Homo sapiens: one gene and its partners. The protein of the gene in region 2 purifies or fractionates together with the protein of the main gene of each other region. This does not show direct contact. Each region holds a gene or a part of one and is shown on either strand. Other genes may lie near its edges.

What was found.
Region 1: the proteins of RAET1E (region 2) and MFAP3 purify together in Homo sapiens (affinity purification with mass spectrometry; 2 studies listed by BioGRID and IntAct, with this or other methods). This does not show direct contact.
Region 3: the proteins of RAET1E (region 2) and PODXL2 purify together in Homo sapiens (affinity purification with mass spectrometry; 2 studies listed by BioGRID and IntAct, with this or other methods). This does not show direct contact.

Annotation. Positions count from the first base shown.
Region 1 is NC_000005.10:154,037,399-154,041,154, forward strand, and holds the start of MFAP3 (microfibril-associated glycoprotein 3 isoform 1 precursor), read left to right. Parts: upstream 1-1,568; 5' UTR 1,569-1,613; exon of another isoform or gene 1,614-1,910; intron 1,911-3,756. UniProt on the Homo sapiens protein: Component of the elastin-associated microfibrils.
Region 2 is NC_000006.12:149,882,627-149,885,500, forward strand, and holds the end of RAET1E (retinoic acid early transcript 1E isoform 1 precursor), read right to left. Parts: 3' UTR 1,879-2,874; coding exon of another isoform or gene 1,862-1,878; 3' UTR 553-1,861; downstream 1-552. UniProt on the Homo sapiens protein: Binds and activates the KLRK1/NKG2D receptor, mediating natural killer cell cytotoxicity.
Region 3 is NC_000003.12:127,639,052-127,642,707, reverse strand, and holds part of PODXL2 (podocalyxin-like protein 2 precursor), read right to left. Parts: intron 3,464-3,656; coding exon 3,185-3,463; intron 1-3,184. UniProt on the Homo sapiens protein: Acts as a ligand for vascular selectins. Mediates rapid rolling of leukocytes over vascular surfaces through high affinity divalent cation-dependent interactions with E-, P- and L-selectins.

The DNA of each region.
Region 1 (3,756 bases), on a different chromosome or scaffold from region 2:
CATTCACTCGCAAACATTTTTTGAGTACCTACTACGTACCAAGTAGTACCACAGTACCTGTGGAGATAGAGAACTAATGTAAGCCATTCACTCCAAGGGCCTATCTAATAGGAAAGACGAGACAGTTTTTGCACAAAGTTCAATTAATGTTTTGTGTATATGAATAAATGTTTCCTATCTTTTCCTTATGCTCTCTCCAGGTTGCAACGCATCATTATCATCATCATAAATATATACAGTATACTATATGTAGAATATATAATATACATATTACATAAATTCATATAATTCCATGAAAGACTGGAAGGACATACTCCAAAATATATTTTTAAAGACAGGGTCTCGCTATGTTGGCCAGGTTGGTCTTGAACCCTAGGCCTGGCCTCAAGCAATCTTCCCCTGCCTCAGCCTCCCAAAGTGCTAAAATTACAGGCGTGAGCCACCATGCCCTGCCAAAACAGTCCCTTTACTAAAATATTAAACACTGGTTATCTCTATTCTTTCATTTGTGCCAGATATTTGAGCTAAGCCAGAAGAGAATTTTTTATGGTGATGGTTGTTTATATTATCATTACTATCGTTATTAGAATGACTGTACCATCTCTTTCCTCAACTCATTCATAATCTAGGAGAAAGGTTAAAAAAAAAAAAGGAATAAACACCAAGTACGTGGAACTGCACTATTTAGTGTTTTTGTAAGTCTTCCAGGCATTGTGTAGTAAGCGTGTAGAAATAATTGTAGTTTCTCCTCCAGTTATTTTCTCAGTTGGAGGAGAAAGATTCCAATAACTGTAAATAAATACGGCTGAGCCATATTTTTAAGAAATAAAAACGCATACGCTTACACACACACATATATATTACGTATATATACACTCCACCCGCCCCATTTACCAAAATGAAGAGCAGTACAGCTTAGTAGCTAAGAGCACGGGCTCTGGAGTTTACTTTCTTCCTGTCCTGCAGCGATTGTGGGGAAGTCAGGTCACCTGTCTGCCTCTCCGTTTCCTCATCTGTCAAATGGAGTTCTGGGTCCCTATAAAGATTCAGTGACGCGATATGTGAGGGGCTTGGAACAGTGACCGGCACGTAACCGCCCACAGGTTAACAGCTGCTATCACTTGGTGGGGTGATGGTTTGTATCCTATCGTTATTAATACGGCTGTCTCTAGATGAGCAAACATGCGCTCTCACTTCTTCCCACATTCAAGAATGGGGTCCCAAACGAGAGATTCGACGTAAACGTCCGCTCCCAACTAAGTTCTCAGGCGCTGACAACGACAAGAATTCCTCACACAAACGTAGCGCTTCAATCACTAAACCGCTTTCACAGCCCTCGACCCTGCCGCGAGATGTCCGCCGCCCACCGTCAGGTCACCGCCTCCCTAACGACTTCGGCTGCCCGGGCCCTGCCCCTGAACCTCGCACCCCTCCTGCCTCGTTCAGGAAGCTCCGCACCTATCCGGCCGCCACCCTCAGCACAGCCACGGCAGCCGACTCGGCGTTCCTACTGCCCCGGAAGTGCTCCTTCAGCGCAGAGGCGTGCCGGTGTGTCCGAGAAAACTTCCGAGTTAAGCCGCCGCTGAGGCCGGAAGGAGCTAGACGGCGGTCGGGTAGGTGACGGCTTGGTTGGGGTCGCTGCGAGGGGACTACTAGGAGCGCCGAGGCGTGAGTCGTAGCCTGTGGCTTGGGGTCGGGAGTGCAGGAGGCGAAAATGTTTGCCATTCTTTTGAAAGTCTGGCCTGGGTGTGGGAGTTCGGTCATCGAACACTTACTGAGAGCCAGATACCTGCCAGGCACTGCCCTGGGCTCCAGGGACACATCAGTCAACGAACGGAAGGGCCCTGCTCTCAAGCAGTGCGAAAAGCAGATTATAAACAAGTCAACAAACGGGATTATCTAAGGTGGTAGTAAGTGCTGTAAAGAAATTTAGACTGGATAATGTGATGGAACGAAGTGGGAGAGTAATAAGCCGTATGAAAATCTGGAATAGAGCATTCCAGGCAGAGAGAATAGCGCGTGCAAAGGCCATATAGTGGGAACAAACTTAGCAAAGTCAAGGAAAAGACAAAGGCCACTGGCTAGAGCAAAAGGAGCAAGGTGAGAATGGAGAGAGATGAGGCCAGGGACTTGAGCCCAAATCTTGTAAGGCTTATGAGCAAGGATAAAGAGTTTGATTTTTGTTTGGAATCCAGTGGAAAACCATTGAAGGTTTCTAAGCAGATGAATGACATGATCTGATTTATGACTCTAAGATTACTCCTGGGACCTCATCAGAAAGATGCAACTCTTCTGTTGCCCTCGAGCAGTGAAAATGCATGAAATCCAGACTGACAGAGCTAGTAAAATATTAAAATCAATCTTATTGTACAGATAAGAAAAACTGAATCCCAGAGAGGTGAAGGGACTTAGCCTTTAAGAACTCATGTTTTCCAACTCCATTTAATGCCCTCGGAATTATCATCTTAATTCCCAGATAAGAGTAATTGTCACTTCTAAAACTCTTCAGATATTTTCCTTTGCTTTTGACAGTGGTTCTCTAAATTTAGGTTCATCAATATCACCTGGAAGCTTGTTAAAATTCCAAAAAACAACAACAAAAAAACCCCTGCTTAAATATAAAATGGATCATTTCCTCTGATTTTCTGTTGTAATGGAAAATGCATAGAATTTGGGGCTAAAGTATGGAATCTTGGGAAGCCACTTATTTTTTAAATGCTGCTGATAATTATAGCAGCAGTTCTCAAACTTTTTGATCTTAGAATTTCTTTATACTTTTAAAATGTATTGAGAACTTCAAAGGGTTTTTGTTTATAATAGCTATCAATATTTACTATTTTAGAAAACAACTTTCAACAAAGGTTATTCATTTTAAAATAAACTCATTATATGTTAACATAGATAGCATTTCTGTAAAGGATATTTTCCAAAATGAAAAATTATTGAGAATGGCATTGTTTTACATTGTTACAAATCTCTTTAATGTCTGGCTGAATAAAAGACAGCTAGATTTTCGTAACTTCTACCTTCATTCTCTTACAATATCAATCATCATGTAACTTTTAGAAAATTGTGCCATATTGTGTGAGAATGTGAGTGAAAAAGGGATATGTCCTAATATTATGTAAATTGTTTTGAAACAGTGTCAGGGACACCCAGGAGTTCCTGCACCACACTTTTGAGAATTACACTGAATTACGGTGATTGTCATGCCAGTAAAAGAAATATGAGTTTGATTTGTAAATCAATAAACCTATATGCACATTAAAAATGCAGATGCCCAGGCATCCCCTAGAGATCCCAATTCAATAAGTCTGTGGGGTCAAGAAATCTGCATCTTTAACAAGCACCACAAATTAATTTGATATAAATGGTCTGAAAATTACAGAGTGAGAAAACCAGTCAAATGATTCTCTAGAGTGTTCTGCCTACTAAAACTCAAGATAGGTGTCTTTCTTATCTTCACCTCTCTCCATCAATAGTTTCCAGAGCCTGAAGCTCTGGAAAGTTAATAAGTTTGTAGCAGACACCTTTCACACTACCAAGTCGATGAGTGTCTGAACTCAAAATTTTGAGCACTTGCCACAGGCAGTGGCCCTGTGCTAAGGACAGAAGGTTTTTAGACTCTATCATTCATAAGCTTACAGTCTTTTGAACGGATAACTAACTGCTAAGAGGAAAACTGATAAGTCTTATAATGGCGTACTCTTAATGTGCTAGGGGACTGACAGAGCAAAAAAAAAAAAAACTCATCTG
Region 2 (2,874 bases):
AACATAGTGAAACGCCCATATCTATAAAAAAAATCTGAAAATTAGCTGGGTGGGATGGCTCATGCCTGTGGTCCCAGCAGTATGGGAGGCTGAAGCAGGAGGATCGTTTCAGCTTAGGAGTTCAAGGCTGTAGTGGGCTGCGTTCACACCTCTGTACTCCAGCCTGGACAACAGAGCAAGACCCTGACTCAAAAAAAAAAAGACCCACAAAAAAAGCCCCCACCAAATCTATTGCAACATCAGTCAAAATTTTAGTTCTACTTATTAAATACAATTTTATTCTTATAGCAAGTATTTTAAAATTGTTATCTGTTTTTTTAAATATGTAAAATATCTTCTTGTCGAAGCGACAGGTGCTTTGAATTGTTACCTTTATGTTTGTTGAAACTATGAAGAAGAGATTAGGAAGACTTTAGGTTTAAAATGGAAGACAGATTACATATATTATATTCTTGTAAAACTATGAAAATAAAAATAAAGGAGTAAAAGTCAAAAAAATAGCTACCTATTTAATTCAGTTTCATGATCATAATAGAAGGGATAGTCTGAAAACAGAGTTGCAAATAAGTTTATAATTTGTAAAGATCTGATAAAAATTATCAGATGATAAGAATTTACAACCATATCATCACTGAGAATGGAGGAGAAAAAGAAAGATTTCCATATTACATTTATTTAGAAACATGTTTGGTGTGTCTATTTTAAAGTAAAATTAAAAAAAGTACACACACAATTTTTTTTTTTTTTTTGCATTCAGTGTTAAAGTGTTTATCAGAAAGAACTACTTGTGTCTGGGCTCAGTGGCTCATGCTATAATCCCAGCACTTTGAGAGGCTGAGGGGGGCAGATCACCTGAGGTCCGTAGTTCGAGACCAGCCTGGCCAACAGGGTGAAACCCCGTCTCTACTAAAAATACAAAAATTAGCCGGGCGTGGTGGCTCATGCCTGTAATCCCAGCTACTCAGGAGGCTGAGGCAGGGGAATCGCTTGAGCCTGGGAGATCGAGGTTGCAGTGAGCCGGGATCGCACCACTACACTCCAGCCTGGGAGATAGAGTGAGACTCTGTCTCAAAAAAACAAACAAACAAACAAAGAATTACTTGCACTGTGCTCACATAATTTATACAGTCAGTTCTGCTATATCAGGTTGTTTGAAAACCGTACTTTATTCCAATGCAAATGATGTATTAGGGAAGAATTTCAGTGTAATGTGAATTGCACGTTTGCTTATGAGTAACTTAGTCTGTGAGAAATGGTGAATGCAGAAAACTGCCTCACAAATGATTATACTACCTCTCAAATAATTTCCAACAACTCTTCTTCCTCCACTGCGTAGTAATCCACAAGCTGCTACTCTTCTAACTCCCGGGGATCCATGCCCTCCCCTCTGTTTAATTCCCCCAATTTCCTCTTATTTTCCATTTTTCCTCTCTGTTCTTTGCTTATCTCTCTTTTCTCCCTCACTTTTCTTCTCTCCCTCTCACACATAGAGGAGGGGGTGTTAGAACCAGGTGGGCTGGTGGTAGGATCATAGGTCCACAATCTCACGAGCAAAGGCTCACTGCAGCTTCAGATTCCTGGGCTCAAGTGATCCTCCTGCCTAGGCCTCCCAAAGTGTTGGGATTATAGATGTGAGCTGCTGTGCCCAGCCCTATCTTTTAAAAAATATGTACTGAAAAAAAATTTTTTTTTTTTGAGACGGAGTCTTGCTCTGTTGCCAAGACTGGAATGCAGAGGCGCGATCTCCGCTCATTGCAGGCTCCGCCTCCACTTGACTCAGGGAACACACAGCAGTGGGAGCCAAGGCTGTCAGCGATCGAGGACCACAGGTGAACAACTCTGCGCCGCCGTGGTATCACCTCTAGGTGGATCTTCTGCCTTTAGGAAGGAGACAAAAGAGTGCAGAACCCTGGGTCAGATCAGCTCAGGATTGACCCCTCCGTGATCTCTCAGGACTCAGATCCCACCTCTCTCTCAGGGAGAGATCAGCCGCTATTGTTCACATTCTGCCTCTCTGTCATCTAGTTTATGATTGTTCACTTTCCGTTACTTCATCATTAGTTAGACCCAGACCCCAGCAGAGATTTTAGGGGTTCAGAGCCAAGGAAGGCAAAGTATCAGTGGGAACACAGTGGGAAGGCCCACAGCGGGGGCAAGAGTCTTCCAGCTGTGGGCAAGGGTATCCCTGCGGCAGGTCCAGAGCACTGAGGGTGGGGCTTGGCACGACGCCATTTGCCAGGATTCCTGTGTCAGGGGTGAACCAGAAACCCAGGTGTCAAAGGAATCCCACCTTCTAGTCCTTGCTGTCCTCACAGAGTGTCTAGGGTTCACTTTCAGCCTTCCCTTCTGCTCACAATCCCCTCTCCCACGGTCTGTGTGGCCCTGCCTCCAGCCTGCTTTGTTGGAGCCCAGGCAGCCTTCTTCATTATGTCCTCCTAGGAATTAAACCTAGAGACCCCTCAACCTTTGGCATGTGATATACTTTCCCATGGTCAGATGGTCAGATCATCAAGCTGCTGCCCCACCCAAAATTGTGTCTTGCCCACCCTCTGTGTTTCTGTCCATCAGACCACCCATCACATAGGCAACCCCTGGAGAGTGACCCTGGTTTAAAGCCCGACTTTGCCAAACCGCTGTGGATGCATTAATTTGGAAAGGTCCCTGTTCACCTCAGGGCCCACTTGCAAAGCAGAGACAGTCCCCGAGACTCATTCAGCCTTTGCCTTTCTCCTGTTGGCCAGGGACAGAGAGGGCTCAACTTGACCCAGAGCTAAGCCTCTCAGGTCGTGAATGCCCAGGCGATAAATGAAATTCACCTCATCTTATGTCTATGGTGAGATTTGGCAGGGGTCTTGGGGAGACTTAGCAACCTCA
Region 3 (3,656 bases), on a different chromosome or scaffold from region 2:
GTACACATATGTTTTGTACATATATGAGTTAAAATATACTAGTAATCAAAGGCCATTATAATTTTTCCTATCAAACTGACAAGGGAAAGAGAGAACACTTGGTGGGGGGTGCGGCGTTCATTCTCTTCGTCTCCTCCCATATCTGGCCACCTCTCTACACCACTTTCCCTGCAGGCTCCCATCTTCATCCCTTCCCTGGTCTCACTGTGCCTAGAGATGGTAAGCACTCAGCTGTTGCTAGCCACAGATCCTTAGCCAAAGGACTTGTGAGTCCTTTGGTAGTTCACCTGTATCCAGCCCATACCTTCATAAATCTGCTGCTTCATAAACAAACTCTCCTTAGATTGTTTTAATTTGATTGTGTCTTCTGTTTCCGCGTGGGATGCTGACTGATACATCTTTTTTTTTTTTTTTTTCTGAGATGGAGTCTCGCTCTGTCCCCCAGGCTGGAGTGCAGTGGTGCAATCTCAGCTCACTGCAACCTCCACCTCCCAGGTTCAAGCAACTCTCCTGCCTCAGCCTCCTGAGTAGCTAGGTTCACAGGCGTCCGCCACCACACCTGGCTAATTTTTGTATTTTTAGTAGAGACGGAGTTACACCATGTTGGCCAGGCTGGTCTCGAACTCCGGACCTCATGATCTGCCCACCTCGAACTCCCAAAGTGCCGGAATCACAGGCGTGAGCCACGTGCCCGGCCCTAATACATCTTTTGACCTATCAATTTTATTCTAGAAATTTATCCTAAGGAAACCACCAGGAAGGTGCGAAAATGTGTAAGGATATTTGTAGCAGAATTAAAACTGAAGACAACCTAAGTATTCAACAGTAGGGAACCAGTTTAATACACCTGATGACCCACATGATGAAATATAACGTAGTTGTTAAAAATCAGGGCTGGGCACGGTGGCTCATGCCTGTAATCCCAGCACTTTGGGAGGCCGAGGTGGGCACATCACCTGAGGTCAGGAGTTCGAGACTAGCCTGACCAACATGGAGAAACCCTGTCTCTACTAAAAAAAATACAAAATTATTCGGGCATGGTGGCACATGCCTATGATCCCAGCTACTCAGGAGGCTGAGGCAGGACAACCGCTTGAACCTGGGAGGCGGAGGTTGTGGTGAGCCAAGATGGCACCACTGCACTCCAGCCTGGGCAACAAGAGCAAAACTCCGTCTCAAGAAAAAAAAATCAAGTTATAAGCCAGGCACAGTGGTTCACAGCTATAATCTTAGCACTTTGGGAGGCCAAGGGAGGAGGATCGCTTGAGCCCAGGAGTTCAAGACCAGCCTGGGCAACATAGCAAGACCCCATCACTACAAAAAAATGAAAAAATTAGTCAGGCATGGTGGCACATTTTTGGTCCCTGCTACCTACGAGGCTGAGGTGGGAGGATCGCTTGAGCCCAGGAGTTCGAGGTTACAGTGAACTATGATCACACCTGAACAATGGAGCAAAACCTCAACTCTAAACATAAATAAATAAATAATAACATGTTGTCCGGGTGCGGTGGCTCAGACCTGTAATCCCAGCACTTTGGGAGGCCGAGACGGGCAGATCACTTGAGGTCAGGAGTTAGAGACCAGCCTGGCCAACATGGTGAAACCCTGTCTTTACTAAAAATACAAAAATTAGCTGGGTGTGATGGCGCATGCCTGTAATCCCAGCTACTCGGAGGCTGAGGCAGGAGAATCACTTGAACTCAGGAAATGAAGGTTACAGTGAGCCAAGGTCACGCCACTGCACTCTAGCCCAGGTGACAGAGCAAGACTCCATCTCAAAAAAATAAATAAATAATAACATGTTTAAAAATCAGGTTATAAATGGATATTTAACAATGCGGAAATATACTTATGAAATATTTTGAGTGAAAACAAAATGTCCCTATGATTCCAATTTTGCACATAAAGTGACTAGAACAATGTATCCCCAAACTACTAATAGTAATTATCTTTCAATTATCAGGTTATAGGTAGTTTTTATTTTTTATTTTATTTTATTTTTTTTTGAGATAGAGTTTTGTTCTTGTCGCCCAGGCTGGAGAGCAGTGGTGCGATCTCAGCTCACTGCAACCTCCACCTCCCGGGTTCAAGCCATTCTCCTGCCTCAGCCTCCTGAGTAGATGGGATTACAGATGCCCGCAATCATGTCCAGCTAATTTTTGTATTTTTAGTGGAGACAGGGTTTCACCATGTTGGCCAGGCTGTTCTCAAACTCCTGACCCCAAGTGATCCACCCGCCTCAGCCTCCCAAAGTGCTGGGATTACAGACGTGAGCCACCACACCCAGCCTTATTTTCTTCTTTGTATTATTTTTGTGTGTTTCAGATTTTCTACAATGTTCATGTGTTCTTTTATAATTAGAAAAGGTAAATCCAATAAATATTACCTATTTTAAAAAGAAAAATTAAAGGTTAAGTTCTGTAACACCTTGCCCCATGTGCACACACAATCACACCAATTCCTCAGTCCCTACTAAGAGATGGGGCCCTGCTGGCCCAGGACATTGGTGGAGGGGCCATGCCTGCATCTGTATCAATGTCAGCTCATGGCGGTGGGCATTCAAACCTGGAGCCCTAGGCCTCGGGCTTTCTTCGGGACCCAAATGTTCACCAGCTGGGCTCTGTAGATCCAAACACCAGCTCTAGCTCTGGTGCATGACTGAGGGAAGGGCGGTTAGAATGCCTCAATTGCTGGTCGGATAGACTCAAGGAAACATGGATCAGCTGACCTTGTGGCAATCTTCAACAGAGACAGCATAGAGCAGTAGGGAAAAACAAAACAATGAGCCCCAGGGCTTGGAAAGCCATAGGTCTGAATCATGACTGAGCATCTGAGCTGCTGTTTGACCTCAGGCCAGCTTTTAACCTCTCAGTCTCAGTGTTTTCTTGTCTACAAGGGGGGTCATATTACTTATCTCTCAGGTTATAAGCATCAGATTGAATTAAATGAGCACAGAATAAAGGCTCCCTAAACAGTGGTTAGTATTAAAGAGAAAGGGCCTCCTGGGCCTGTGAGACATTCAGGGTCCCAGAGCCTTTGCTCTGATGTGCAGGTAAACAGCAGCAGCATGGTAAAAACTGTAGGGAGAGAGAAGAGATGCTTCTGGCAAGGAAATGGTCACCTGGTGTTTTGCCTAGACACTTGGCTGGCACTCAACACATGCTCTGTAGGTAAGAAGAGCTACCTGCAGTGGGTCCCAGGTCCAGACTTGAGTCATTCAGCTCTTCCTCCTCTTCCCAGAAGTACTGTGGTGGCTGCAGAATCCGAGACTCTTCATTCTCTTCGCTGGGGAAGCCTGAGCCAGGGGCTCCCAGCCCAGCTCCCAGGCCCATGGTCTCACTAGGCTCCTCTGAGTCCAGTGGCTCCAAGCCAGTGGGCAGCAGGAGGTCTAGCAGGGAGGTGGAGGTGAGGCCCTCTGGGCCAGGCTCATCAGACCCAGCCACACAGGCACCCAGGAACGCTCCTGTGCAGACATAAAAGCCAGACAGTCAGGGGAGGCTAGAGAAGACACAAGACTGGTGCCAGGTTAGAGCATGTCTCAAATGACAAAGGTCCTGGGGAAGGGGGGACTTCAGTGGACACTCCTGAAAACCCAGAGGCTTTGCGGGGATTCTGAGACACTATTTTCATTTCAAAAAGGCCAAATTGCTTAGACT